Regions from separate parts of the Homo sapiens genome. Here regions 1, 2, 4, 5 and 6 are each linked to region 3. The links come from fine-mapping of genetic effects on gene expression. A gene starts in region 3. Each other region holds a variant in brackets. All regions are shown on one strand. Distances are from middle to middle.

Region 1 (5,106 bases), 280 kb after region 3:
GTAGGGGGCAGGGAGGGACCCTCATTTGCCCCTCTTCCCGCCCAACAGTTGCCTGACTTCAGCCTTAATGCATAGCTCATCCAGAGTCCTCCTGAGCTCCCACCTGGTGAGGTGTGTGTAGAAGGTGTGAGGAAGGCCAAACCACATTTTCCTGGCAGTGGTTAACTGACCGTTTTCAGCCCGCCTCCCAGTGCAGCTGACTGCGTCAGCTTACATTACCGTGATGTCATTCCCATGGTGGGATAATATAGCATCTTACTTTGTCTGGAGTGGTGCCTCCCATAAGTTTTTTGATACCGCCTACAAATGGAGAAAGACATCATTGTTTAGCCATTTTTATTTGGGTGGGTTGGAGGAATGACTTTCCCAAAGGAATAAATCTTAGTTAATATTCCAGAAAATTCAAGTACTTTTCAACCCTAATTGAAAGGCACTCTGTGTGCGTGAATTAAAATCAAGGTGGAGTCCATGTGCCATGTGCTGTGTGATTCTAAAGCCATATTTTAGCTTGGCCTATTAGTATTTTGCATCAGAACATTTTATACTTGCAAAGGTTAGCAAGAATTTTCCTCAGACACATTACAGATGAGCAGAATTTATTCATTTTGGGGGAAAAAATGAACAGACTGTATTTGGAAACTTAGATCATATCCAAAGCACTTGATGATTCCTGTTTGGAATCATTTTTCCTTCAAAGAATAGTTCAGATCAGTGTTAAATGCAGGGCAGAGATGGACTCAAGAGTGGGAGGCATTGCTTTTGAATGGAATCACAATGTGTATATCATTTTAAGTATTATTTTTATGGTATGTTTCATTATCAAAACCATCTATAGCCTCCAAAGGATGACAGGTGTTATAGTGTGAGTGGCGTAGAGGGTGTTGAGATAGAGGAATGAAAAGAGAAGAGATCGTTCCCTTTCCACTCACCATTCATAGAGGAACTAAGTTTTACCTTCTAGGGAATTCCCTGTAATTCCCAGGGACGCCTTGTCCTTGCGGTTCCCAGGCAGGATGGTAGGAGGAGCTAAGTGGGAGGGAATTAATATTTCTTGAGTGTCGGCTGGTAAGTTGGTTGCTTTACCTCCACTTTTTTAGAGACAGGGTCTCTCCGTGTCACCCAGATGGAGTGCAGTGGTGTGATCATAGCTTACTGCAACCTTGAACTCCTACCTACACTATTTTACTTAATCTTTATAGTCACCAGCATTTTTCAAATGGAGATACTGAGACATTTGGAAGTCACATAACCATCCAGGGGTCCCACAGCTACATAATGTCAGGTCAGTTTTCCTACCCAGCTCCTTCTCTGTTTTTTTTTTTTTTGTTTTTTTGTTTTTTTTTTTGCAACAGAGACTCGCTCTGCCATGCTGGAGTGCAGTGGCGCCATCTCAGCTCACTGCAACCTCTGCCTCCCCGGTTCAAGCGATTTTCCTGCCTCAACTTCCTGAGTAGCTGTGTCTACAGGCGCGTGCCACCACGCCCGGCTAATTTCTTGTATTTTTAGTAGAGACGGGGTTTCACTGTGTTAGCCAGGGTGGTCTCCATCTCCTGACCTCATGATCCGCCTGCCTCGGCCTCCCAAAGTGCTGGGATTACAGGTGTGAGCCACCACGCCCAGCCCTCTCCTTTTCTTACTAAACCAGTGCTGTAGGGGCTTGCTACTCCAAGTGTGGTCTGGGGACCTGCAGCATTCCTGTCATCCAGGAGCGTGTTAAAACTAGAGTATCCTGAGCCCCATCCCAGACCTACTTAATCAGAATCTGCATTTTAGCAAAATCCCTAATGAGTCCTGAGCATGTTACTGTGTGAGGAAGCTCTGCTTAGAGGAGGAAAGTCTGACAATTACAACTATGCATCCTGGCCAAGACTCAGGACTTGAATCCATGGACTGGACCCGAAACATTGGTCTATCTCAGTGAGGGAGGAAGGGTGCTACTAGAATCTGATGGGTAGAGACCAGGGATGCAGCTAAACGCTCTATAACACACAGGACACCCCCTTCCACCAACAAAGAATTATCCTGCACAAAATATCAATGGTGCCAATGTTGAAAAACCCTGGTCTAATTGTCTAGATGTAGAATTCACATCCTGTAGATATGTTTCGTAGCCTCAGATGTATGCAAATCTCTAGGAAGTAGATCTTAAAGGAGTTGATACAAATTGCAGTGTGCTATGCAAATGGGAATATTTTTATTGGGACTTGAAAAGAGAAAAAGAGCTTAAACTGAAGCATGAAAGATTTCCATTAGAGTTTTGAGAGTGTCAGACTCTCAAACAATAATATCAGGGATGCAGTGGAAAAGTTTCTAAGCATGTACTGAGTACCCACCATTGAGGGTGCTACAAGGCAACATTCCCTCCCATTCCCAATCCTGCCTGGCAACAGTGCCTTCTGTTTCTTCATTTTATTCCTAAGACTTGCCCTGGCCTTTGTCCTACCTTTCCGTTCTCAAGCAGGATATGCTGGGTCAGTTGTGCCACCTGGAGGCTGGGGGAGGAACGCAAATAATGAATAATTGGTAAAGGGAACCAAAGCGCTGTTTCTACCATCTTTTCCTCCCTGCCTGCGTGGATCCACACCTCACTGTTTCTTACTCAACTCCTTCAATGCCACGACACTGTAGCCACTTCCACTGGTGGACACATATCCTCTCTCCCTCCTTCCTTCCCATTCTCTTTAGATCCTGGCCCAGAACATCTGAAAAGATCTGTCCTCCCTCCCCTGTCTCTCTCCCTTTTTTTCTTCTCTTTCTTCCTTTTCTGAGCTGAACAGCAACCTGTATCAATACTGGGAAGTAAAATGAGTATGCTTATTGTATACTGATGGAAAGTTTTTTGGTTTTTTTTTTTTTTTTTTTTGAGATGGAGTCTTACTCTGTTGCCCTGCTGGAGTGCAGTGGTGCAATCTCGGCTCACTG[C/T]AACCTCCGCCCCCTGGGTTCAAGCGATTCTGCTGCCTCAGCCTCCCTAGTAGCAGGGATTACAGGCATGTGCCACCACGCCCACGTAATTTTTGTATTTTGGGTAGAGACAGGGTTTCACCATGTTTGCCAGGCTGGTCTCAAACTCCTGACCTCAAGTGATCCGTCTGCCTCGGCCTCCCAAAGTGCTGGGATTACAGGTGTGAGCCACCGCGCCCAGCCGATGGAAAATGTTTTGAAGTGAAATTATATCCAATAAAGAGCTCCTGTCATTCATCCAGTTGTGAGAGTCCCTTTGAGAGTTGCCAGAAATGTCTGCTGTCTTGTTTTTACTCTTAAATTAACTTGCTCTTTCTCGAAGTACAGAATTCTAAAACAGAGTTGGTGTTTTTGTTGTTGTTCTATTATGTCCTCCTGCTTTCTTTAGTTGTTGGTACTAGAATAGTCATTTTCTACTACTTTTTCATGGACATTATCCTTGAAATAGGTTATTCTAGACAAGTTTTGGAACCCAAACTGGATTTAAGACCAAGGCATTCCAAGAAAAATAAAATCTTTTTGCAATTTCTATGCATCATCTTTTTATAACTTTCATTCTCCTTTGCAAAGGAAATGTGGGGCTGTGGATGTGAAAGGAGGTGGGGGCAGTGACCGGCCAGCTGCAGAACATTCAAGCCTGGCCTTTGGACTCAGAGACTAGGGCAGAAGAAGCCAGAGTGCTAGGCTTCTGGCCAGAGTGGAATGTGTCTTCCCAGGAGTGGGAAGCCTGTGTTTTTCCACCTTACCATCTGATCTGCTCCAGAGGGCTCTGCATTAGAAAAATAGGGAGCTATGGGGAATGACTAGGGGGTGGAGATCATGAGAGCAGTGTCTATGGAGGATTATCAGTTATGCTCAGAAAGGGAAGATTTGGCACCTGGTCATCGATTTTTAGTACAGTAATTGTCTTGAGAAAAGTATTTGAGAATCAATATTAGAAACAATTTTTAAAATATATCAGTCTTAAAGGTACATAAATGAGAGGAAGAAAATCAGAGATCAGGGTGTCTGCAAGATGGTCTACTAGGCTTTTTATTATTGTAATTTGTGATTGAATGCCCTCTGTGGGGCCAGGTATTTTGTTTTTGTTTTTGTTTTTGTTTTTGTTTTTGTTTTAGATGAGTCTTGCTGTGTTGCCCAGGCTGGAATGCAATGGTGCGATTTCGGCTCACTGCAACCTCCGCCTCCTGTGTTTAAGCGATTCTGTTGGCTTGGCCTCCCAAGTAGCTGAGACAACAGGTGCGCACCACAACATCCGGCAAATTTTTGTATTTCTAATATTCACCATGTTGGCCAGGCTGGTCTCGAACTCCTGACCTCAAGTGATCTGCCCACCTTGGCCTCCCAAAGTGCTGGGATGGGCCAGGTAATTTTATTTTAGCCTGACAACTACTCTTTGGGGTCCTTGGATAGTTTTTAATTCCATTTTGAAGATGGAAAAGTGAGATGAATTGGTCAAGGTCAGGCCCACAGGCCCTATTTTTTTCCCCTTGCATTGTTACTGTGCTGGGTGACAACTGGTGCTGAGACAGCTGCTGTCTCCATCACTCTCATGAGGAAAGAGGGTCAACAGGTCCAGGAGTTTTTGTTTGTTTGTTTGTTTTAGATGGAATCTCACTCTGTTGCCCAGGCTGGAGTGCAGTGGCGCGATCTCGGCTCACTGCAACCTCCGCCTCCTGGGTTCAAGCCATTCTCCTGCCTCAGCCTCCCGAGTAGCTGAGACTACAGGTACATGCCACCAGGGCTAGCTAATTTTTGTATTTTTGGTAGAGACGGGATTTCGCCATGTTGGCCAGGATGGTCTCCATCTACTGACCTTGTGATCCACCCGCCTCAGCCTCCCAAAGTGCTGGGATTACAGCAGGAGTTTTTACTCTAAATATTAAGTTAAGCTTACAAGTTAAGCTACTTGTAAGCTGTCTGAAGGTCTATTTCCCTGACTTTGCAGTTCCTTAATTTTGAAGGCAATCTCTGCCTGTATGTCTTCTTCCTTAGAGACCTTTGTCCCGTTAAGGTAACCTCCTCTCCCAGCCCACACCTTCTAAAGTACCTTGTCACGTCTCATGAACTCCACAAGGGTCCTCTTGGGCATGATAATGTGTGTCACCTCTTGCAAGATCCACTAAACCCTCTTTGCCACAAGTT
Region 2 (5,106 bases), 360 kb after region 3:
AGTTACTGACAATGTCTCATCCAACAAAAAGTTTAGTTAATAGTTTTAAAAGGGCTGGCCATGCAGGGTGGCTCATGCCTGTAATCCCAGCACTCTGGGAGGCCAAGGCTGGACTGCTTGAGTCCAGGAGTTTGAGACCAGCCTGGGCAACATAGCGAGACTCTATCTCTACAAAAAATTTTAAAAATTAGCCAGGCATGGTAATGCCCACCTGTAGTCCTAAGGGAGACTGAGGCAGGAGGATCCCATGAGCTCAGGAGTTCAAGGTTGCAGTGAGCTATGATCACATCACTGTGCTCCAGCCTGGGCAACAGAGCAAGAGCCTGTCTCTTAAAAAAAAAAAGGAAGGTGGTGGCAAAAACTACTATTTAATGATGGTCAAAAATAAAAAATAAAGATATTAGCAATTATAAATATTAATTGTGTTAAGTATCACTCCTTAACAAAGACCAGACCTAGACTGGAAGAAAATCAGAGAATGGAAGATGTTGACAAAAGAGGAACACTCATTATTTGTGCCTGTTAATGGAGAAGACATATACATTACTTGAATAATTTAAGTCTGAAAGGAAATGTGGAAAGTGAAGAGTGAAGGAAACCCCCCAGTTCATGGATAACTCAGAGAGTTTTTCAACATTCTGACAGCAGTGTAGAGCACTTACGATGAACTCCAGTGTTTTCTTAGGTCTCAAGAACAAATCCATAATTATCCACTTTTTTGGGAAGGATTTTGAAATTAATTTCCTGAGAATCGTCCTAAGGTGGTGTTTTAATATTCTAAGCATTTAAAATTGTTGAAACCTTAGATAAATGAAAATTACACTCTCTTGCAATTTTGCATTGTCCTATGTCAATAATACCAGGCACATTATAAACTTGAGACAGGGAAACAAAGCCAACCTAGGTGTTGTAAGGTCCTTGATGGTAACTCAAATTAAGTTTATACTTTACTGGAATTCTTTGAGATAAGCCAGAGTCCTTTGATATGAAAAAGAAAATCATCTTATAATTTGAAAATTAATGTTTCTAATGCCAAATAACAAAATTACATAGGCTAGATAACTGGTAGAAAAATAAGATGGATGGGTTGGGTGTGGTGGCTCATGTCTGTAATCCCAGCACTTCGGGAGGCTGAGGCGGGCAGATTACTTGAGTACAGGAGTTCAAGACCAGCCTGGGAGACATGGAGGAACTCTGTCTCTACAAAAAAAAAAAAATATATAAATATATATATATATATAAATCAGCCAGGGGTGATGGCACACACCGGTAGTCCCAGGAGGTAGAGGTTGCAATGAGCCGAGATGGCACACTGCACTCCAGCCTGGGCCACAGAGCAAAATCCCATCTCAAAAAAAAAAAAAAAAAAAAAAAAAGCCCTCAAGACAAAAAACCTCCTTCCTTAAAAAAAAAAAAAAAAGAAAAATATGATGGGTTTTAAAACATTAAGAAGATAGGGTTTTCTTATTGAATCACAAACTGAAGATATCACATATAAAGCAGTTAAAAAACTGGAGGAGAGGTACCATTGGCCATTAGTTTTTCAAAGCAGTGCTGACTTCTTAACTAAAGAGTATTATTTTGATGCAATCCCAGAAAACAGAGCTGTGCAGTCAGTGGCTTTGGTGATGGTGTTCATAAGGCACATGGTCAATTACAGCCATGGCAGTGAGGCACTGTAGCCTGTGTGCTGCCATTAAAGGGATCTACTGTTTTCCAGTATTTTATTCTGCAAAGATTTTCCAAAAAGTTTCTTGTCTCCAGAATAACTGCATTACATCTGGCAGAGAGTCATATGTTTTAAAGATCTGTTCATACAAAAGGACCTTCTTTTTGCAATCCTATTAATAGTCGTATTGCACAGCCTGCAATCATTTGCCGCAAAATACTTGGGAAGACTCTGGTACAATAATGATGTAATCTCTTCCACCTTAGTAGATAAAATTTAAAAATGGCACTAGCATGTAAACAAAATGGAATCCATAAATTAGAGAGGATTGGGCACCTGTTACTACAAGAAAATGAACATTTAAGGGATTATTAGAAAATATCTATTCAAAAGAATTTGTCACTGTGGTTTCCATTTTCCTTCCTCTTA[A/G]TTATGAGTCAGTTTGTCAGCATTCACATCCATAAGAGATGCAGTATTTAACCCTGACTTTTGTTTACTCTTTATTCCAGAAGCCTCCCCAGCTTTCTGAGGATGATATCTGGCTAAAAAGCGAGGGAGACAACTATAGTGCCACCCTCCTGGAGCCTGCTGCCAGCTCTCTTTCCCCAGATCACAAAAACATGGAAATTGAGGTGTCTGTTGCAGAATGTAAAAGTGTTCCTGGAATCACCTCTACCCCACATCCCATGGACCATCCCTCCGCTTTCTATTCACCCCCGCATAATGGCCTCCTTACTGATCACCACGAATCCCTGGATAATGATGTTGCCAGAGAGATCCGCTATCTAGATGAGGTGCTAGAGGCCAACTGCTGTGATTCTGCTGTGGATGGAACGTACAATGGAACATCCTCCCCAGAGCCTGGTGCAGTGGTTCTGGTGGGCGGCCTAAGCCCCCCTGTCCACGAGGCGACCCAGCCAGAACCCACTGAAAGAACAGCTAGCCGGCAGGCACCTCCTCACATCGAGCTCAGTAATAGCAGCCCTGACCCCATGGCAGAGGCAGAAAGAACAAATGGCCATTCCCCCAGCCAGCCTAGAGATGCGCTGGGGGACAGCCTGCAGGTGCCTGTCAGCCCCAGCTCCACAACCAGCTCACGGTGTTCTTCCCGAGATGGAGAGTTCACTCTCACCACACTGAAAAAGGAGGCCAAGTTTGAGCTGCGTGCCTTCCATGAGGACAAGAAGCCCTCCAAGCTCTTTGAGGATGACGAGCATGAGAAAGAACAATACTGCATTAGAAAAGTGAGGCCTTCAGAGGAGATGCTGGAGCTGGAAAAGGAGAGGAGAGAGCTCATCCGCAGCCAGGCCGTCAAGAAGAATCCTGGCATTGCAGCAAAATGGTGGAATCCCCCGCAGGAAAAAACCATCGAGGAGCAGCTGGACGAGGAACATCTGGAGTCGCACAAAAAGTACAAGGAGCGCAAAGAGAGAAGGGCACAGCAGGAACAGTTGCTGCTGCAGAAGCAGTTACAGCAGCAGCAGCAGCAGCCCCCATCGCAGCTCTGCACAGCCCCTGCCTCTTCTCATGAACGCGCAAGCATGATTGACAAAGCAAAGGAGGACATTGTCACAGAGCAGATAGATTTCTCTGCTGCTCGCAAACAATTTCAGCTGATGGAGAATTCCAGGCAAGCGGTGGCCAAGGGCCAGAGTACACCCAGGCTGTTCTCCATCAAGCCTTTCTACAGGCCTCTGGGGTCAGTCAACTCAGACAAGCCACTGACTAATCCGAGACCACCTTCTGTCGGGGGACCTCCAGAAGACAGTGGTGCCTCAGCCGCCAAGGGACAGAAATCCCCCGGTGCCCTGGAGACCCCATCGGCAGCAGGAAGCCAGGGCAACACAGCCTCTCAGGGGAAGGAAGGGCCCTACAGCGAGCCTTCTAAACGTGGGCCCTTATCTAAACTGTGGGCTGAGGATGGAGAATTTACGAGCGCCCGGGCTGTCCTCACTGTGGTCAAGGATGATGACCATGGGATTTTGGATCAGTTCTCAAGATCTGTCAATGTCTCCTTGACCCAAGAGGAGCTTGACTCTGGTCTGGACGAATTGTCGGTGAGGTCTCAGGATACCACAGTCCTGGAGACCCTATCCAATGATTTCAGCATGGACAACATCAGTGACAGCGGGGCATCCAATGAGACAACCAATGCCCTCCAGGAAAATTCACTGGCTGATTTTTCTCTGCCCCAGACACCACAAACTGACAACCCCTCAGAGGGCCGAGGAGAAGGCGTCTCCAAGTCATTTAGTGATCATGGTTTCTATTCCCCTTCCTCCACGCTGGGGGACTCTCCGTTGGTTGATGACCCCTTGGAGTATCAGGCTGGCCTCCTGGTGCAGAATGCCATTCAACAAGCCATAGCCGAGCAGGTGGATAAAGCTGTGTCCAAAACCAGCAGGGATGGAGCAGAGCAACAGGGACCTGAAGCGACTGTAGAGGAAGCTGAAGCTGCGGCTTTCGGCTCAGAAAAGCCTCAGAGCATGTTTGAGCCACCTCAGGTGTCTTCTCCTGTTCAAGAGAAAAGGGATGTATTACCAAAGATTCTGCCTGCTGAAGACAGGGCGCTCAGGGAAAGGGGGCCCCCCCAGCCACTGCCAGCTGTGCAGCCCAGTGGCCCGATTAACATGGAGGAGACCAGGCCCGAAGGAAGCTATTTCAGCAAGTACTCGGAGGCAGCTGAGCTGAGAAGCACAGCCTCCCTCCTGGCCACTCAAGAATCTGACGTGATGGTTGGGCCTTTCAAGCTGAGGTCCAGGAAACAGCGGACTTTGTCCATGATTGAGGAAGAGATCCGAGCAGCTCAGGAAAGGGAAGAGGAGCTGAAGAGGCAGAGACAAGTCTTGCAGAGTACGCAGAGCCCCAGGACAAAGAATGCCCCATCACTGCCCTCCAGAACATGCTACAAAACTGCTCCAGGTAAGTGAGGTGCCTCACATGAGAGACAGATGCCACAGCAGTCTGTTGTTGTTGATTCCAGCTCATGGGTTTCTATGTGGAGCCTCCTCTGTGTGTGTCTGGAATAAGTGTTGGGGGGACACTGGCATGAGAATTCCAGCATACAGGGACATGCAACAAAAGTGTCAAGAGTGTCCTCTAGAAGAACCCTGAGCTTGCATGGAGTTTGCCACTTTCCAGAGGATGCAATAGCTCCTTCTTTGTTGTTCTGCTTTGGCCTTGGTTTATTATAAAGAATTGTTCTCTTTTACTTGAAAGCCTGCCTCTTGTCTGAAGGAGAGGCTGTTTGTGGCATAGAACCAGAGTGGACCCATGTGTGGACTATGTTGGAATCAGTAGCTTGACCCTCAGTATCTAGTTAAACCCATCTGATTTGGGAGTTGTCCTCTACTAACTAACCCCTTCTGAATGCTGGTTTCCTTCCCAGCAATGATAGTCATGGCATGGCATTGCAGACTGGTCCATGCAAAATGCTT
Region 3 (5,106 bases):
TTCTCCACCTTCATCTTTCACATCTGAAGAGCTGAAAGAAGCAGTTTGTACTCATGGTTGCTTCTCTGATCTCTCGCTCATCCCCATTTTTGTTTGTTTTATTTTCAACATTCACTTGGTAGCAGTCATTCCTCACCTCTTGTAAGTGCTTCCAAGCTCATCTTCTGGACACAAGTCACTCATGGCTTACTGACAGCCCTCCAATGGTCTCTTCTTCATCTGCATCCCCCATGACCTTTCAGAAGCATATGACCCTGTTGAAAACCTCTTTCCTTCTTTGTGGCTTTTGGTGCAAATCCCTTTGAATTTTTCCTTCTACTTCTCGGATGATACTTTATCAGTCTTCTTTGCTGGGCTCTCTCCTCTTCTTGCTCTGTTTTCTCATCCTGGCTGTTCTCATTTCTTTAGCTGTAACCGCAAAGTAGATGACACTTGGATGTGTGTCCCCAACCCCGATTCTTCTATTCAGAGTTCAGATATTTCCAACTGATCACTTCCAAAGGGTGCCCAGGCCCTTTTCCTTCTCCATCTCCCCATTCCATCACTCCTTTTAAAAATTTATTGCGGTTAAAAATACAAAACTTAAAATTTACCATTTCAACCACTTTTAAGCATATGGTTTGATGACAGTAAGTACATTCACACTGTTGTGCTCAATCATACCTTTTAAATATCTGTATAGCTGGGAGTAGAAGGACCATTTCTGGTTCAATTGTTTATTCCTGGGGCCTGCTTCTATCTCCATATCATTGGCCAAGCCTGGTGCTTAATGGTTAAGAGCATGGGCTCTGGTGAGTGTGATCTGAGTTTAAATCCCAGCTCTATAACTGTAGCTGAGTCTTTCAACCTCTCTGGTCTCATTTTCCTCATCTTAGTATTCTCTACAATCACTCTGCTGAAGCAATAACAGCTTTGTTTATTTGTGAGCAAACCCCTTTAAATAACTTGTCCTGCTGGGGCTTGTGCTGGAAATGAAGAAAAAAGGATGCATTTGAAGAAAAGGATGGGCTTAGCCAGAAAGTAGAAGTTTCTGATATATTGGAGTGGGATGTAGAATCTGGCACTGGCTTGGATTTATTAAACAATCAGCTCCACCTACACTTGTTATGAAAAAGATGGGAAAACAATCCATCAGTAAACGATTTTGGTGAGTGCTTCCATCTTTGGTCAGAGGAGTAATTGTTCATCAGTGACAGGTGAACCTCTGTGAAAATTGAAAGGGCAATTTAGTTGAAATGGAAGCATTTATTCAGGAAACAGGTGATCTGGGAAAATTTGATGTGCATTTTTTTTTTTTTTTTTGAGACAGAGTTTCACTCTTGTTGCCCAGGCTGGAGTGCAATGATGTGATCTCGGCTCACTGCAACCTCTGCCTCCCAGGTTCCAGTGATTCTCCTGCCTCGGCTTCCCAAGTAGCTGGGATTACAGGTGCCTGCCACCACGCCCGGCTAATTTTTTGTATTTTTAGTAGAGAAGGGGTTTCACCATGTTGGCCAGGCTGGTCTCGAACTCCTGACCTTAGGTGATCCACCCGCCTTGGCCTCCCAAAGTGCTGGGATTACAGGTGTGAGCCACCGCATCTGGCCTGATGTGTATATCTTTTAACATGCCTTTAAATCCTATGGCTCTAAAGAGGCCATATTAGTTATTTCAGTGTTTATTTCATTTGATGAAGAAACGTTTGCATATGAATGTTGGGAATTCTAGCAGGTCCTGCCTCAATGTGAAGAGGCATTTTTTTTTGCTTTTGGCATTGATCTCCTTTTGGACTGGGCCTGATCCACTTCTTACATCCAGTCCAGGACCTGTCACAAAAGACTCACATTAGTACCACATGGTATCCTGTTTTAGTAAAGAATAGGTGAAATATTTTAGTGAGTAGATCCTACTTTTCCTTTCAGATGCAATGAACAGAAGACCCTGAAAGGATTTCAATCCAGAATGTCACAGGATAATAAGAGCAGATGTCTGTGATGCCCTTTACAAAGCACCTTTACATACTGTCTCTCATTCGTCTCTAATGACACCTATGTGATCCTCCATTTTTTCAGATGAGGAAACTGAGGTTCAGAGTGATTAAGCGAGTTGCCTGAGATTTCACAGCTAACACATTGTGAAATCTAGTCTAGCACCCAGGACTAAAAACTCTCGGCTTCTTTTAAGGCCACATATCGCCTCACCAGAAGGGTGGCCTCTCTGGAGATATACCCTACCCTCGGCCGACTTGATATTGAGAACTTGGTCATCTTAAGCATGTGGGCCACTTGGGCAAGGCAGCCCTTCCCAAATTGTAAATGTCCCCACGTGGAGCTCAAGCGTCTGGCTTGAGCCAGAAGGTGCCCTGAACACTCGGTGGCCCCAGCCCCCACGTAACAGCACGTGCTCGGGTCCCACATTCGGTCAGACGCCCCTCTCCACTGGCATCTGCCCGGTGGAGGCGCCACTGCGCTCTGCCTCCGCCCCAGCAAGCGCGTGTCCACGCGGGCGCGCCACGCCAGCCGTGCGCCCCAGCGGCTCGCCGTGCGCCCGCGCCCCAGGTGCCCACTGGCTCGCGCGCCCTCCGTCTGCGCCTTGGAGACCCGCGGCGGCGATCGCTCGGAGCCGCCTTGGACCGCGGCCTCGGGTCCATCACACTCCAGGGGCGGAGCGAGGCACCGAGACGTCAGGGCGGAGAACTAGCGCCGGGCTAGCGCGCCCTCCCGGCGGCTGCCGGCGTCCCACGTCCTCGGCTGGCGCGGCCGGCGGCGGCGGCGACCGGGAGATGCAGTGAGCGGCGGCGCTGGGGCGCAGCCAGGCGGCCGGGAGGGCGGGGGCCAGAGGCTGAGCCCGGGCGAGCCCGCCGTGCGCACAGCTCTGCCCGCCGCCCCTGGAGCGGATCCCCAGCCGTCCCTGGGCGTTCTCCCGGGTTCTAGCAAAGCCCCCCGGGGTGCCCATCAGTTTCCTTGGGTGACTACAGCGTGTGTTTTTTCTTTCCTCTTTCCCCTGCCTGTGTGCCCTTCTCCAGGATGGCAGAGGCGGAATTGCACAAGGAAAGGCTGCAAGCCATAGCAGTAAGTCCACTTTCATTTTATTTTCTTGCTCTATTGTCTGGGGTGGAAGGGGGCCCCCGAGGGTTTCGGGGCAAGCGGCATGCCAGCACAGTAGCCGCAGGTCATATGTTCCAGGGGCTAAAACTCTGTCAGGGCTCAGCTAGGCTGCCTTTTCTTTTCTATGTCTATAGATGGAGACCCCCAAGGGCGCGCTTTGGACTGAGGATTTGAATGTGGAAGATTGGCTTAAAAAAAGATGCTTGCTGCTGGGCTTTGGGGAAGGACTAAACAGAGGCTTGGGGTGGGGGGACGACTCCAGGAATATTATGACCGAATGCTCAGGCATACGTTGGCTTCATAGCCTGGAGAACCAAGAGAAGGGTGACCTGAACGGTGGCTGCCATCCTCTCTGCGGAAGCTGTCCTCCTGTTAAGTGGAAAACCAGGAGTCAGCGACTCAGCCAGCCACGCGGTAGAACCTCCTCCCAGAAACCGGGAATGTTAGTTTTCCCTTCTCTGTTTGATATTGACAAGGGCACTGGCACAAGCCACCACCCTGGAGGTCTGGGGACTTCATACAACTGGGTCCTGGTTATAATATTCCATGAGAGCCTCCTTCTTATGGTGTGGAGTATCTGAAAACCTATTTTCAGCCTACAAAGGAGTAGTCAGTTTTGGCAAAGTTCGTAGGCACTTTCAGAAAAGTGTACCCATGTGCATCTTGGGTTTAAAAAAGAACTCTCTGAGACTGCCTAGATTTGAGCAATCTTAACACAGTGTTGCCAATGATCCACAGATGTGGTATTTTTACTGGAGCCACCACAGCTGGATTATATATTTCCTTCGAGGATGAGGGAATGATTACTGCTGCCGTATGAAATAGTAACAATTAAAAAAGAAGGTCCGTTAACATATTGGCATAAAAGAATCTCCAGACATTCTTCCACCTAAATACATTTGTGTTTTTCAGTTCGGAAGTTCTCTGGAAACACATATAAATTTGTTGGAGAAATAGTGTGTAATGTTTTGGAACCAAAGTATATTAAAGCGTTTTCCAAAACCTTTTTGGACAGATTCTTCATTGGGAAAATGCACACAGACCCTTCCTTTTTTAGAAGCATTTGACATGGTCTCCAAGGCTCTGAGACCCTCTTTCTCAAACGCCTCAAATCTGAAATGTCTTGGAGACTTCACCACTGAAGTGAGAGAGATGTTTGCTGGCAATATTGAAATGCCATGGTTTGCCTATTAGGTAATCTTTGAACGTGGTGCTCTGAACTCAGAAAGGTTGTTTTTTTCTTCTTTCTCTTTCCCCCTGTGCATGTGTATTTTGATGGTTTGTGAAGTTATTTGTGGTTTCTAAAGTTGGTGGCAAGGCAGCATGGCCAGTGTGTCATGAACTTGATAAGAATGGTGATATTGAGTTAATGGTGCCATGTAGCTGGTGGGTGTTTTGTGTGAACTGGATAATAGGCTGCTTTAACTGTTGATGCAGTGGCTGTTCCCATTGGCTGCTGCTGAAGGCTTCCAACAGTTGTCACATTTTCTGCCTTTGCACAACCAGCTTTACTGGATGCCTGAGGAACAGCTGAACTCCATGAAAGGACTTGCTTTCCAAACATGGAGCCAGTAGCTGCTAACACTGGGGTACCCTTTTCCAAGTGCGGTTGAGTAATCCCAGCAGAGGCCAAGTCGATTTTCCAAGAAAGATCTAGGCAAATCTTTGGGAATTCTCTTGAGCATATAAGAATACACACAAATACTCACTTGTGCCTCTTCAGTTATTGAAGAATTGAGTTTGTCCTGTGTATCTGGGGAGCTGTTGATTATTCTCATGAATGTGCACCTAATACAGTCTGCCCTCCCTATTCATGGGTTCCATATCCACGCCTTCAGTCAATCTTGGATTGAAACTATTGGAAAAAATAATAGATAGCTGAGTCTGTACTGAACATGTACAGACTTTTTCTTGTCACCATTCCCTAAATAATACAGTATAATCAACTGTTTACGTCGCATTTACAGTGTATTAGGTATTATAAATAATCTGAAAATGATTAATGTATGTGGGAGGATGT
Region 4 (5,106 bases), 300 kb after region 3:
CCCTCTAGCATCTCTGAGAATTGTGCTAAGGATTTGTTGCAAGGATGGCGGTAGATGAAGAAGCCATTGGTTTGAGTGAGATTTGGAGTTAGGCGTAGTAATCCTTGGGTGCTGGAGTAGTGTCTTGTTTGAGGGAGCAGTGTTCATAGGGCATAAATGCTATAGAGGTGTCTGAACCACCTGGAGCCACAATCTGTCCTCATGATCTTGCCCTTCAAATGCAGCCGCATGCCCACATAACCCACCTTGGGGAGTAGCCAATACTCAGGCTACTCTGTGGGCTGGCATTCTTGGTCTCCTGACTTCTGCCCCAGCTCTACCTTGGTTGATACCCCAAATGCCCCTTTTCCTCTGGCCTACCTAGCCTGCTTTCTCCCCTTCTTCCTTGGTTAACTTTGCACGTGACCATTTTGATTCTCTAAAGAGAATCATTCAATTAGGAAATGGAAATCTGAGGCAATGAGAGAGAGGAGACATGCATCACTATTTATTTTTAGAAACTTCACACAACACCAAGCCCAAACTGTTAAGCATTGCCTTAGGAGAGGTTTCTACCATTGTGCTTGCCAGGTATAAGAAAAGAAAATTACAATTGATTCTGTAATTTCTTTTGTAATAATCATCATAGATTCCAAAACACAGAATGAGTCTTTAGTGCGAAGCCCTGAAGCCTCTGTCTGCAAGTCCATTTTAATGACAGTTTTTGTTCTGAGCAAGAATGCGTCATTGCTGGTCTTGTGTTTTCAGACAAACACAAAGCTTTTAGGAAATAAGAAGCTTAAGTAAAAAGACTACAGGTTGTTCTCTCCTGGGAGTTCCTGGACACCCTCTCAACTGGGACACTTGAAGTGAGCCTCATGACCTGAGCTGAGAATTGCCATGGCTGAAACAGCTTTTATAGGGTGTTTTACATGGACACTTGACACTCTTTGGATCACATTGTGTGTGATCCAGACTCAAGCCAGGGTTAGCCTAGCTTGTTGTTTTATCTCAGTTAAAAGCCTTTTGTTAAGAGAACAAACAAGAAAGTTCAGATAGGTCAAGAAAGCCAGCTCTGAGGATATATCTAGAGGGCAAGTCATATTTATTTTTCAAAGTTTCCCCAGGAATTAAAGGTTGCACATCTAAATGTCACCACTTCTGTGACTTTTGCAGATAAACATTAGATTTACCTTTGGCAAACTGCAGTGTCTACATTATGGGATTTCCCTCCCCAGAGTCTTTTCTCTGGGGAAGTTCTGAAAAATTGTTTCAGGGATACTATAGTTCTTAAATATAACTAACAAACATATTATGAAATGCTGTTAGTTTTTTTCTGGAGGCTGAATATTGATTGCTACTTAGTATACCTTTTTTAATGATTATATTGTCCCACCAGGATATTTACACAGCTTCATGTGTCTTCCCACAAAATACACATGAATTGCAAAGGGAATATAGTAACTTGGCAGTAGAGAAACTTGGCAGATACCACCCTAATCAAATAATCAAATCTAACACCATTAGTAATTGGACAAATTGGCAGTGTGCACCATTTGATGAGATGCACAGAGGAAAACACAGCATCGCTTCTGTGATATTCCTGCACAAATGCATGAGTTAGATCTAATCATGAGGAAATATCAGGTAACCTCAAATTGCGGGATGTTCAACAAAATAACTTGTCTATAATCTTTAGAAGTCCCAAATTAGCTGGGCATGATAGCTCACACCTATAATCCTAGCTACTTGGGAAGCTGAAGCGGGAGGATCCCTTGAGGCCAGGAGTTTGAGGCCAGTCTAGGCAATATGGTGAGAGCCCATCTCAAATAAATAAGTAAGTAAAAGTCATGAAAGACAAGGAAAGACTAAGAAAGTACCCCAAATTGAAGGAGACTAGAGACATGAGACATGGGAGCCTAGATTGGATCATTTTATTAGTAAGAACATCATTGGGACCAAGATTGAAATTTGCATGAGGTCTATGGTTTACATGTAGAATTCCATCAATGTTAATTACAAGATTTTGAGGCTGGACTGTGGTTAGGTGGAAAAAGTCCTTGTTTTTCAAAAATGTACCTTGAAGTATTAGGAATAACGAGGCATTATGTCTGCAAAAAGACTCCAATAGTTCACAAAAAAATTATAAACACACACACGCACATACACATACCATGTAGCATTCTAATTTTTAGAACCAGAAATGAGCTTTTAAAAAGTCACCATAGGCTGGGTGTGGTGGTTCACGCCCGTAATCCCAGCACATTGGGAGGCTGAGGCAGGTGGATCACCTGAGGTCAAGAGTTCGAGACCAGCCTGGCCAACATGGTGAAACCCCGTCTCTACTAGAAATACAAAAACTAGCTGGGTGTGGTGGCGTGTGCCTGTAATCCCAGCTACTTGGGAGGCTGAGACAGGAGAATCTCTTGAACCCAGGAGGCAGATGTTGCAGTGAGCCAAGATTGTGCCACTGCACTCCAGCCTGAGCGACAGAGTGAGACTCCATCTCAAGAAAAAAAAGAAAAAGAAAAAGAAAAAAAAAAGTCACTGTAAGAGATGAATTAGAAGAATGTGTCTTGAATGCGGGCACAATTTATTTTTGTTGTCAATTGACAATCTTGAAAAAATTCTGGCCGAATGTCGGTGTGCCAGCTGTTTCATGCACCAGACCTGTAGTTCACCCCTACTCTTTTACCTGTAGTTCATCCCTACTCTTCTAAGGCTTGAATGGAAAATAATTTCTAATTTGTTGTAAAATTTACCAATTTGGTATTGCTGCTGTAAACAGGATTTTATCTAGGGTTTAGATGCCTTATCTTCAAATTCCACTATCAAGCTAGTACATAAAATTGTTTGAAAACTGAATCAGATGTTTATGTAATTCATAAAAACATATAATTTCCCTCTAATATTTCATTTTTCCTAATTATAAAAATAATGCATGCTTATTATAGAAATGTAGACATAAAAAACTAT[A/G]AAAAGAAGAAAAGAAAACTCAATCCAAATCTTACCACTCAGAAATGACGTGCCACTGGTAACATTTAGACTTATTTCCTCCTAATATGTATATTTTAAACTGCCCTCATTCTCTTTTTTTCTTTCTTTCTTTTTTTTTAACCTCTATAGTCGCTCCTGTAAAAGCTGCCCCTATGCTTGTAACATTATTCTACAATGGACTTTTGGATCCTAATGTTTTTACTCACTTTAGCATAAGCATTTTCCCATGTAGCAAAATTTCAGATATTTTACCTTTTTATTTTAAAATAATTTTAAACTTAGAAAAGAGTTGCAAGAGTAGTACAAAGAATTTTTGTTTTCTCTTCACTAATTGTTAACATTTCTCATATTTGACATGTTATATAATTTATATATGTCTATATTATATACAGATGCATAATTTTTAATATTTTTTTCTGAACCTTCTAAAAATAAGTTGCAGATATCATGCCCCTTTATATTACTTTATATAGTCTCAAAAGTGTTAAAAAAATTCAGGAAATTTGACATTGATACAATACTATTACCTAATATAAACTTGGTTTTTCAAAATTTGCCAGTTTTTGCAAAGTGACCTCTAGCATTTTTTTACCCCAACACCAGGATCCAATCCTGGATCACACTTTGTATTTTGATATTGTCTCTTTATCACCCTCTAATCTGATAAAGCTCATCAGTCCTTTTTCTTTGTCTTTCATGACATTGACATTTGTAAAGAATATTTTTCCTTCCATGTGAATTAGTCTGGTTTCTACACGTGGTCCTTAATAGCTATAAAATATTCCACCGAATTTTACCTAGATAAATGCTTTATGTTGGTGATTTGATGGTTTCTAGTGTTTATCTTCATAAATAAGGCTGCAGTGAACATCCTTGTATTTATGTTTTATAAACATCCCTGGTTATTTTCTCTCTGATAGAATCCTGGAAATAAAATACTGGGTAAACTAGCATAGGTATATAGGCTCCTGAGGATATATAGGTATATCATATATATTCTACATATATATATATATATATAGGTATATATACCTCCAAAAGGATGCTTTTCAAAAGGATGAAACTGGCAAGAATAAAATCTCACTAGTTGCCAAATGAAACTTCATTTTTGAAACACAGGAGTATAAAATAAAAACTTACAGAATATATCCTATGTTATTATTTTTCAGTTATCTGTAATATTTTGGTCAGATGTGCTTTATTAAGTAAAAATATAGGGTCCCAAATCATGCACACATGATGTTTAGATGCATATGGAAGACCAGCTAGACAAGGCCACCTCCGAGTTTTGTGTGTTGAGCCACTTTTTATGGGTTACTTATTCATTTGAAATTGATCCTGGCATCTGTCAAGGTAACATTACAGTATCACTGCTTGGGGCTCCCTTTCACTTGCCTGTATGGATAGAGCTTTAATGTTTATTTCGTGGGCAATTCATAACCTGTAGCACATGAAGGAGGCTGTCACGCAATGTATACCACCCCTGTGGTAGGCCCAGGACCGGCGTTTGTCTCAAACAATTCCAGTAGGCCTTTTATTCAGTGAAGTGGATAGATTTGGTGGATACCACTCAGTGAGTCAGAGTTTTGGAATCAATGTTCTCCATAGCTCATAGCATAAGCTCTGGAGCCTGACAATCCTGGGTGTGATTCTCAGCTTAACTACTTGCTGTGTGACAACAAGCAAATCCCTTAACCTCTCTGAGCCTTGGTTCCTTTATCTGTAAAAGGAAGACTGTAGTCGTACTCCTCTAATAGGGCGATACCCTATTAGATGTGGATGAAATACAATAACAAATAGGAAGCCTTTAGCATGTTACTTGGCACATTGCAAGTACACATTCAGTGATAGCTTTCATAATTACTATAATAGTACATTCATTTCGAGGTTGTACATTGACAGTGAGCAAAACACTTTAACATCTTGTGACGTGGGCAAGTTCTCCCATTTGACAGATGAGAAACCTTAGACAGAAAGCGGGTTATATGAACTAACAAAGCCATGTGTCAGGTAAACGGTGAGGCTGGGCATTAATCTCACGTCTCTGACTCATGGGTCAGCGGGTCAGGGCTCTCTCTTCAGGATATCCAGTGACTGTTCCATAACTCGTTACCTGGAAGTCCAATGCTG
Region 5 (5,106 bases), 140 kb after region 3:
CCTCTGCTTGTGTCTTATCTGCTCACATCCTATTGGCTAAAGCAGGTCACATGGCTGCGGCCAGTGCCAAGGGACTGGGAAGTGTAACCCATCTACCATAAGCCTAGAGCAAATCACATGGTCAAGATTGACATCAGTGGCTTGGGGAAGCATGTACTCTTCCCATGGAAGTAAGGGAGGAAGGAAGGGAATATTTTTGAGAATAATGTAATCTTTTTTTTTTTTTTTTGAGATGGAGTCACACTCTGTTGCCCAGGCTGAAGTGCAGTGGTGCAATCTGGGCTCGCTGCAGCCTTGCAGCCTCTGTCTCCTGGGTTCAAGCGGTTCTCCTGCCTCAGCCTCTAGAGTAGTTGGGATTACAGGTGTGCACCACCATGCCCAGCTAATTTTTGTATTTTTAGTAGAGACGGGCTTTCACCATGTTGATCAGGCCAGTCCCAAACTCCTAACCTCAGGTATACGCCTGCCTCGGCCTCCCAAAGTGCTGAGATTACAGGCATGAGTCATCGCAACCGGCCCAAGAATAATATAATCTACTGCACACCCTAAATATCTGCTAAAGTACTCTGTACTTTGAGATTTAAATCAAATCTGCTCAGGCCAGGTGTGGTGGCTCATGCCTGTAATCACACCTCAAATAAATAAATAAATAAATAAATAAAACCTGCTCAGAGCCCACCTGGTTGGTAGTATCATCCAGTCTACACAGGGAACCTCTAGTCCAGAGCTCCTCTACTCATTGAATTAATTCAGTTTCTGGATAATGTGACTGTCTCGTGTGTTGTTCCTATTTCACACTCATGTCTCTTTACTTACTCCCCCCAAAATAATTTACACAGATGTGTGTAGAAGATTTTGCTGAACATCTGGACCAGCAAAGAAGTTTTACATCTTTATGTTCGTATCTCTAGATTGGCCAGCCCCCTCTCCATAAATTCTCTTTGCGTCTCGCCCACACACAGCCTCTCAAGTTAAAGCTTGCTGAAGAATTCACTCTTGTCTCCAAAATTCTGAAAGTCTTATCTTGGCTGGGCCACACCTTTGCGCAACTTAGCTCAGCTTTTTAAATTCATTCAATGTAGGTGTATTGAGCATTTGTGCCCTCTGTCTGAGGAATTTATAATCTAGTAGGGGAAATTAATAATGTATGTTACTATTTGGGGCCAGAAAATTCTTTGCTGTAGGGTGCCATCCGGTGCACTGTGGGATGTTTACCAGCATCCCTGGCCTCTACCCACTATGTGCCAGTAACACCAGTCCCACCCCCTTGAGCTTTGGACAACCAAAATATCTCTAGACATTGCTGAATATCCCCTGAGGGACAAGATCACCTCAGTTGAGAGCCACTGCTCTAATATATGGTAGACTTGATAAGACTTCTGATAAAACAAAATAATGTGCTAAGAAATGTTCAGAGGGAAGCGATGTTATTTCCTGGCAGTGAAATCTGTGAACACCTCATGACAGGTGGCATCTGAGCTGAGACTTCAAGAATGGTTGGGAGTTTGAGTTGAGTTTCCTAGAGGAGGAAAAGACATGGGGTACATGTGGGCAAATAAGAGTGGCTCTATTTGACTAATGCATGAAGTGAAATAGGCATGTTGTTAGAGTGGAGCTGATAGGTACTGGGAGGCTAGATACCATGGGGACTTATAAGCTGTAGGACTTCTACTTTTACCCTGAGTGAAATGACAAATATTTCAGAGCTGTGTTCATTTGGAGGAGGTTAATTTGGATATAGGGCTTGCCTTCATAACCCAAAGTAATTGCTGCAAAGATTATCCCTCCAGAGGTCACTTTTCTGACACCCAGGAAGGAAACAGAAAGGCCATCTGAGGGGCACAGTATGTCGCTAAATAAATTCATGCCTGGATCTTGGTGTTCCTTACCTTTCAGAAAACCCCACTCTGAACTCCTTATTTTAGGTCTAAGTCTAATGGCCAGTTCCCGAGAGCAGATTAAAAGATGGAAAAAGAGGGCCAGGCACGGTGGCTCACGCCTGTAGTCTCAGCACTTTGGGAGCCTGAGGCAGGAGGATTGCTTAAGCCCAGGAGTTCAAGACCCACGCAGGCAACATAGTAAGACCTCACCTCTACAAAAAAAAATTAAAAATTAGCTGGGCATGGTGGTGTGTGCCTTTAGTCCCAGCTCCTTGGGAAGCTGAGGTGGGAGGATTGCTTGAGCCCAAGAGGTAGAGGCTGCAGTGAGCTATGATCGTACCACTACACTCCAGCCTGGGTGACAGAGTGAGACTCTATCTCAAAAAAAAAAAAAAAAAAAAAAAAAAAAAAAAAAAAGATGGAAAAGGAGGAAGGCAAGGGAGGGGACTTATATAGGCAGACACAGACTCAGCAGCAAAGCTTCCAGCACAACAGAGGGGAAAGAGACCAAAAGAAAAAATGAATGAATGAGTGATTGAATGAATGAACCAATGAATAAATTCAGATCAAATAATTCAAGAGGCACAGCAATCTAGAGTTTTAGCAAGAGAACATTTATCCCTTCATTCTTCCTGAAGACATTGCTGCATATCAGTGCCATCCTACTCTGCCAATATATGTAATGTTTAACAAGGTGGGGGATGTGGAGAACACTTTAGATCCCATGTGGTAAGAGTTGCTCAATGGTTAGGAACAGGGTCTAGAGTCAGAGCACCTGGCTTGAATCCTTGCTTCAAGGCTCTGTGGCACTAAAGCCTGCTTTACTAGGTTACTTCACCTTGCCAAGCCCTACTGATCTCATCGGTAAAATGGGGATTCCCTACTCACAGGGTCATTGGGAAGTTTGGATAAAATAATCCACATGAATTCTTAGCTCAGTTCCTGGCACAGAATAAGTGCTCAGTAAA[T/C]ACTGGTGGTAATTATTATCATTTCACTGAAAGAATATGGCTGTTGAGACTTTCCCCAAATCATAGCTGCAGCTGCTATTCTGGAATATTTCCAGAGTCTCCTGGCAGTGCTGAAATTTCCCTTTTATAAAATACATAGGATGGCTGTGAAAATTGAGGAAAGTTCCAAAAGGCAGGGGCAGTTGCATCTGTCTTCTTCATTTCCCTTCTTTTTGGCAGTAGAATCCAGACCACAGAGGGAGAGGACACCAGGCTCCCAAGGGTACTGGCCACCAGCTATTTCTTGGCAACATACTTCCTTTGAGCAAGAATGGCCCTTTACTTTTTGACCAACCTGAGAGAGCACTTACTCTGAGCCGGTCAGGAGAATATGAAGCTATTTTCCTTCTGATGTTATGTCCTATGCTATGTAAATATAATCTCCCTCCAAATAAGAAAGGTGCACATGCATGGTGTTGGCAGGGAAACATCGAAACATATTGCATAGTGGTGGCTGTGAACCAGTGGAGGCAGTGCTGTGTTGATTTCCCTTGACCAATGTCTGCCCAGTGGCAGAGCTGGAAACACAAGATGCTGTGTAATGTAAAACCTTGGCCTGGCTCCTCAGCGTAATGTAAAACAAAGGCTGCCAGGAAGGTACAAATCGCCCAACAGGAAGGAGCTGCTCTCTTGCCCGTGGATGGCAGGACAATAAAGTAACTTGTCCTTTGTTTGTGTGTTTTCCAGGCTGGAGCAAGAAATACAAACGCTAGAAAGTGAAGAGTCCCAGATATCTGCCAAAGAGCAAATCATCCTAGAGAAACTGAAGGAAACAGAAAAATCCTTCAAGGACTTTCAGAAGGTGAAGAAAACCAAAACGATTTCTCAAAGTTATTTCCATGGGGAAGTAGGGCCTAGCAAAATGGTGCTAACTGGGAAACAGGCCAGTGGGCATTGATGAGAAATCTGAGCCACGAACTCTATGAAATGAGGGGCAGATGTGTGAGGACCAGGGGCCATCCTGAAGCTAAGCATGACATATCTTTGGGTGTGGGACCATCTGGCCTGCTGCAAGGCATAGGGAAGAGTCATTAGATTACCCCATCTGCCTGCTCTCCGGATCCCTGATATGCCTTGTGCCTGAAAAGCCTTCTCTTATTGGACTCTAGAATTCTAAAACCAATTCTGATGAAGCAGAATAAACATGCTCTTTGTGGCTTTAATTATAGTTTGCTTTTTGAGTCTTTCATTATAAAAAGGCCAGAAGCAACACCTTATGAAGTGGACAAGAATTCCAAATACAAAGAGTGTAAATACATGACATTTTACTGTATATAGAAACAGATGGTGCCTGTAATCCCAGCACTTTGGGAGGCCGGGGCGGGTGGATCACGAGGTCAGGAGATCGAGACCATCCTGGCTAACGTGGTGAAACCCTGTCTGTACTAAAAAATACAAAAAAATTAGCCAGGTGCGGTGGCAGGCGCCTGTAATCCCAGCTACTGAGGAGGCTGAGGCAGAAGAATGGCATAAACCTGGGAGGCGGAGCTTGCAGTGAGCTGAGATTACGCCACTGCACTCCAGCCTGGGCGACACAGCAAGACTGCGTCTCAAAAAAACAAAAACAAAAAACAAAGACAAACAAACAAAAAAACAGGTGGTGCCGTGTATCAAAGAGTAGAGTCCGTAAAACCAGTAGGCTCTGAACAAACATCTCAGGACCTCCCTCCATTTTATAACTGTTTCTGCTGTACCTATGAGTGACAGAAAAGCAATCTAATGAAATCAATTTAGGATGGGATTTTCTGATATCATTCTCCAGCATGACCAAGGATATTTGCTAGATCATTGAAATAAATCTCTATTGGGAGAAATTTAGTATAAATTGGGAATTATAATTTTGGAATTCTAAATAAATTGTCCAGAAGAAAAGAGATCGTTGCGTTTCCCCAGCACAGTCAAATTCTGGGCTGGGGCATGGGAGAAAGATGGGTTAAGTCTTTAAAGATGGGAAAAGATGGGATTGTACCCCCACATGTAGAGTAACGCTCTGCCTTGTTTTTGTTCCTACAGGGTTTCTCCAGTACGGATGGAGGTAAGTGCTCTCTGCCCCGACTGTAGATGAATGTTTTAATCCTGGTCAGCTTAGGGGGTTTCATTAACAGGGGCTTAAGGAAGAGGTACTGTGTTGATTTGTAAAGGCATCAGAAGAAGTAGCAGCGCTGGTTGCAGGCCACTGAGGAGGTCCACATTCCAAGCCTTCCCTGCCTCTCTTCTTC
Region 6 (5,106 bases), 270 kb after region 3:
CAGTAGCAACCCCCCTAATCGTGACAATAAGAAATGTCTCTAGACATTGCCAAAATGTCCCCTGGGGAGTTCAATCACCCTCAATTGGGAACCACTGGCCTAGGAGAAAATAAATGAGAAAATGTTAATTAAAAACAGTGTTTACTTTTGCATGCAGCCATTCATACTCTTGCATGGATTTCATTGAACAAATTAAACAACTATTTCTGAGCATCTGGTATGTACCAAGCCTTTTATATTAAAAATGTTTAATCATGGCTACCTCTTTAATAATTTGGAAGGTGGAAGAAAATGTTCTTATAAATTAATATCTATTAAGCATATATTTTTCCTAAATTAATATTCCTAATAGTTTTCTGAAGAATATTCTAGAACTTTAAAATTAATATTAACAAAGCATTGACGTTGTTTTAGTAAAGAAGCAATTCAGAATAAAGTTGGTATGATTGCTTTACTTTTTTTTTTTTTTTTTTTTTGAGACGGAGTTTCGCTCTTGTTGCCCAGGCTGGAGTGCAATGGCACGATCTCGGCTCACTGCAACCTCTGCCTCCCACGTTCAAACAATTCTCCTGTCTCACCCTCCTGAGTAGCTGGGATTGAAGGCATGCGCCACCACGCTTGGCTAATTTTGTATTTTTAGTAGAGACGAGGTTTCTCTATGTTGGTCAGGCTGGTCTCAAACTCCCGACCTCAGATGATCCGCCCACCTCGGCCTCCCAAAGTGCTGGGATTACAGGCGTGAGCCACTTCACCCGGCCTTGCTTTACTGTTTCTAATAATGAAACTAATTTTGTTTGTAAATTTTACACTTATTCTAATTTAGGAAAATATGAGAAGGGAGTGATGAAGTACCTGCCATGATATTGTTTATAACATCTCACATCTGATGTAATTCTAAAATTCTTCCTTAGAGAGTCTATGGTCCATATAAATAAATAAGTGATATCCAAGCACACTCATTTTAATGTGAGTTTTTCACATGATATTAAAATGTTAAAAATAGATCAGTATGTAGGGCATCCAAGCATTTAATTCCTTAAATCGGAGACATGAGGAGAAAAAAATGAAAAGGAAGAAAGAAAAGAAGGAAAAGGAAGGAAGGAAGAAAAAGTTGAGTCAAGGCTGAAGCTCTGGCATCTCTAACCACTGGTCAGTAAATTCTATTGAAATTCAATAGTATAAGAGACAAACAGGCAAAAAGGATCGTGAAACCATTTCCAAATACCAAGATAAAGGAGGCTATTGACATTCAGGAACCCTGAGAACAGCTGATGTCCCATTGTAGACTTCATCCTCTTCCTTGGGTGAAAGTGTGAATAGCGCTCAAGGCAGGGAAGAAGTCTTTTCTCTGAAGGTGCTATTTATGGTGCCCTTGGCCTGGATGGGCTTTCTGGGTAGTTCCCAAGGGTATCATTTCTTTGTATTGGAAATCAGGGACCTTTGTGGGTTAGGAAAGTAGAATCAGGCCATGGCTATTGTCTTTCCCTGCTGTGTTTCACATGTAAAATTGACTCCCAGAAGAGCATCCCAGGGCCTTGTCAAGGAGTGGGGAAAATAGCAGACTGCCCTAGGGTGGAAACCTAACTGAGAGTGCAAGGGCGACTTGCAAAGCTGGGGAGAGAGAATTACTGGGAAAATCGTGCCTAGGGCAAAGCTGAATTCAAGAAATCTGACTTTTGTGATCTTCCTCTGCTGAGAATGAATGCGGCCACCTACAGCAGAGTAAGACCACAGCTTGCTTTTGAAAGTGTTGCTCTCTAGGTGGGGTGTTTGTTTGTGTGTGCCTGTCCTCTCTCAGGATTTCTAGACGGTTCATTTTCAAAGGGTCATTAACATTATTTAAATATTCATGGTGGAGGAGGGGATGAGAGACTGAAATTTCAGACATCTCAAGAGTGAGGGATGGCTGGCCACCCGCCTAATACAGCCCCAGTCTGCGGATCAGCTGCCTCCTTCCCCTCCGCTGGCTTTGTTAGCACACGCGCTCTGACACCGGGCCACCGGCTGCCACTACACGGAGGGCAGCAGGAAGGCTCTGGCGAGCCAGTGAGCTGGAAGCATCTCTGTCCACACCTCAGCCTCTGAACCCCATCGGGGGAGTCCTCAAACACGCGGAGACACCATTACTGCCACAAAGACGCACTTCGCAACCAGTTCCGGGAGTCGCTCTGACCCTGAGGACAGTCGTGGTGCTAGGTAAGGGACGAGGGGCTGTTTCCCCGCCTGAGTGGGAACTCAGCGGCTCCTGGCATTTGAGCGCACACAGGCACTCACACACTTCCACATACGCTCATGCGCACATATGTGTACACCAACACACACGTCCACATGCACACACAGCGACACGCCACCCCGCTCCAAAGCCCCGTGCGCTAACAAGTATCCATATACCCAGACACAGCGCTCCCCTGAGTTAGGAAACACTCAGCTTTGCCCGCCCCATCCATCCCTCCGTCTTTCCCTCTCTCCAGTCTCTGCATTCATTCATTTCTTCGTTTGTGCATCGATTCCGCCGAAGCCACTGAGAGGAGAAGGTGTGGGTAGATGGGGAGGGGAGGGGAGGGAGGGGCGGTCCGTGGGCGCTGGGCTACTGGAGGGGAAGCGAGGAGGCGGGGAAGGGGCGGGCCCCAGGAGCAGGCGGGCGGGGCTCCCCGCCCTCCAGCGCGCCCGGAGGCTACCACTCCCTGCAGATGCGCTGGCCCCAGCCCGGGGCTGCCGCTCGCCT[TCCCCCGGAGTCTCCTGGA/T]CCCCCGGAGTCTCCTGGACCCCCGGAGCGGGAGGCAGCGGCCGCGCGGCGCTGGACTGGAGCAGAACCCCAGGACTGCGCCCCCGGGAGCGGGCGCCCAGAGGTGGGTGTCCAAGCTGGGGAGGGGAGGGGCTGGAGTGTCCTCGAGTGTGAGGAAGGGGTGGCCGAGGAAGGGGTTGCCGAGGAAGGGCTGGAAATCTGGGAGTCCTCGGAAGCACCGCGGGCTTTTAAAGGGCTTTTTGTGGTCCTTGTCGAGCGGAGCGTGTGCTGGGAGAGGGCCCGGGTGGAGGGGCTGTGGCCATGTGGATTTGAATTCCTAGGTTTGTGGGAGGGCCAAGCCTTTGGCTGCTTTGTTCAATGCTTATCATTTATATATGCTTTAAAAACTAAACGCAGGACTCCGCTTCTCCCTGTATACACACAGAGCTGGGCTGTGTGTCCTTTTCAGGAAAAGCAGTGAAATCAAATGTGGTCGTGGCCGCATCTCCTGCCCCGGGAGCACCGGGAGGTGCAGCCGTTCCTTCTAGCTCGCGAGGAAGGCGCGGGTCCTGCCTTTTGGGTGGCAGAGCCGGGGGCATTTTCGCAAGTCCTGAACTTTTCAGAGAGACTGAAGTCAGGGAGGGCCGGGCCCCGGCCCCGGTCCCGGCCCCAGCCAGAGTCTTTCGGGATAGGGTCCAGGGAGCTGAACTCAGGAGATGATGCAGGAGGAGCCAGCAGCCTCTTCTGCCCTGGGAGGGAGAACGCGGTCCGGGTCCGAGCTGAGCCAGAAGTTTGGCCTGAGGCTGGGACCTCAGCAGTTAGAATGTGGTATCTTATCCGAGATAAAGCCGGAGTTTGCGTCTCTGTGGGCCCTTCTTGGGGACACTCTGGGGTATGGGAAGAGCAGACCGTGGGGGAGAGCACTGGGCAAGCCGTACCTGTAATGTCCGTGGAGGCGACGCGCCTGCAAGAACCAGAGCAAGGAGACACTGGTGGCCCCAAGAAATCCCAGAGAAACGGAGTGGATAGGAGGGGAGTAAAACGGAGCCCGGGAGAGCCGGAAGCCCGCAGCAGGGAGCTGTGGCGCTGGTGGCCGGGTGAGGACTGAAGGCAAAGGGCGAGGCGGCGTGCAGCCGGGCTGCCGAGCTCTCCAACGCGGATGCCAGGCGCTCGCCAGCCTGAGGGATCCCTCCTGACCCACAAAGAGGGCGTCTGGGAGGTGACTCGTTTAGAGAGATGGTGGATTCCCTTTCCAGACCCAGGAAAGCCCGTTTCCCGTGTGGGGTAGCATGGGTTTGGCTCTGATAGGCTGCGTGGTCAGATCAGACTTTGACATATCACTACCCTTCCCCGTAGCAGTTTTAAATGCAGCACAGGTGATTTGGGAAGACTTCCTAAATGTATAATATTTCTTTTTGAAAAGAAACTTCACCTACTCATACGTCTATACACCTCTCTCTGTATTGCATCTTGGAATCTGTGAACAAGCCCATGTCTCCCGGGAAGCGCTCTTCTATCCCAACTCCCGTTTCACAGGCTCCTGGAGACTGCATGAATACAAACTCCTCTCACCATTGGGATCCCAGGGAATTTGCTTCCTTGTCTTTTGTTCTGATTAGAGTTCATTTAAGCATCACACTTTTCTTTCTGGAAATGTTCTTAATTTAAATTTAACTAAGCTTCCCTTTCTTCCAGTCTGGCAGCTTCCCCAACATTCATGAATACAATTTCATAATAATATGTCTAGAAATGAGGAGTATCCAGCAAGGAGTTTTACTCTGTTTCTTTAAACATAAAGACTTGGCCTAAAGAGTGTTTTAAGCAATGCTCCGCTGCCGGTTGTCTCCTCCCCAGTTTTGACCCTTGGCCCTTTCTCTGTTTTTCTTTTCTTTTCTTTTTTTTTCTTTTCTTTTCTTTCGAAGTTTTGCTCTTGTTGCCCAGGCTGGAGTGCAATGGCATGATCTTGGCTCACTACAACCTCTACCTCATGGGTTCAAGCAATTCTCCTGCATCAGCCTCCCGAATACCTGGGATTACAGGCACCCACCACCACACCCGGCTAATTTTTATATTTTTAGTAGAGATGGGGTTTTGCCATGTTGGCCAGGCTGGTCTTGAACTCCTGACCTTAGGTGATTCACCTGCCTCGGCCTCCCAAAGTGCTGGGATTACAGGCATGAGCCACCACACCCGGCCTGGCCCTTTCCTTAAAGGGCATCTTCTCCTTTGAGTGGAGGCACACCAAGTTTCCTGCAATTATCTTGGACAGCACCAACAAAATTAGTCCTGAGCCAGGGACAACAAAAGTAAGGCTGCCTGTCTCCCAGTCTTTACTTAACCAACTCTGCTGGAGAGTTCATTTCACTTTCTTTCTGGGATGCTGA

Evidence for each region. PIP is the estimated chance that this variant, and not a neighbour inherited with it, causes the effect. A credible set is the group of variants that fine-mapping cannot tell apart.
Region 1: its variant is the best candidate, but not a certain one, in a credible set for the expression of PALM2AKAP2 in whole blood (INTERVAL, PIP 0.88).
Region 2: its variant is the best candidate, but not a certain one, in a credible set for the expression of PALM2AKAP2 in whole blood (INTERVAL, PIP 0.66).
Region 4: its variant is the best candidate, but not a certain one, in a credible set for the expression of PALM2AKAP2 in fibroblasts (GTEx, PIP 0.82).
Region 5: its variant is the best candidate, but not a certain one, in a credible set for the expression of PALM2AKAP2 in whole blood (INTERVAL, PIP 0.57).
Region 6: its variant is the best candidate, but not a certain one, in a credible set for the expression of PALM2AKAP2 in whole blood (INTERVAL, PIP 0.51).

Annotation. Positions count from the first base shown.
Region 1 is chr9:110,056,056-110,061,161 of GRCh38, forward strand. All of the region lies in intron 7 of PALM2AKAP2 (PALM2 and AKAP2 fusion), which reads left to right. Among named protein-coding and RNA genes, the nearest start is that of C9orf152, 150 kb to the right of the region's middle. The variant C/T (reference allele first, on the strand shown) is at 2,923.
Region 2 is chr9:110,133,949-110,139,054 of GRCh38, forward strand. It overlaps PALM2AKAP2 (PALM2 and AKAP2 fusion), which reads left to right. Exons shown (of 11, transcript NM_007203.5): 8 at 2,179-4,591. Among named protein-coding and RNA genes, the nearest start is that of C9orf152, 72 kb to the right of the region's middle. The variant A/G (reference allele first, on the strand shown) is at 2,099.
Region 3 is chr9:109,777,484-109,782,589 of GRCh38, forward strand. It overlaps PALM2AKAP2 (PALM2 and AKAP2 fusion), which reads left to right and starts at 2,715. Exons shown (of 11, transcript NM_007203.5): 1 at 2,715-3,050. The coding sequence starts at 3,006.
Region 4 is chr9:110,072,515-110,077,620 of GRCh38, forward strand. All of the region lies in intron 7 of PALM2AKAP2 (PALM2 and AKAP2 fusion), which reads left to right. Among named protein-coding and RNA genes, the nearest start is that of C9orf152, 130 kb to the right of the region's middle. The variant A/G (reference allele first, on the strand shown) is at 2,956.
Region 5 is chr9:109,920,161-109,925,266 of GRCh38, forward strand. PALM2AKAP2 (PALM2 and AKAP2 fusion) reads left to right here. Exons shown (of 11, transcript NM_007203.5): 4 at 3,575-3,689; 5 at 4,901-4,922. Among named protein-coding and RNA genes, the nearest start is that of PALM2AKAP2, 140 kb to the left of the region's middle. The variant T/C (reference allele first, on the strand shown) is at 2,849.
Region 6 is chr9:110,046,010-110,051,115 of GRCh38, forward strand. All of the region lies in intron 7 of PALM2AKAP2 (PALM2 and AKAP2 fusion), which reads left to right. Among named protein-coding and RNA genes, the nearest start is that of C9orf152, 160 kb to the right of the region's middle. RefSeq lists enhancers at 1,059-1,633, 2,207-2,780 and silencers at 2,486-2,925, 3,056-3,115, 3,206-3,345. The variant TCCCCCGGAGTCTCCTGGA/T (reference allele first, on the strand shown) is at 2,726.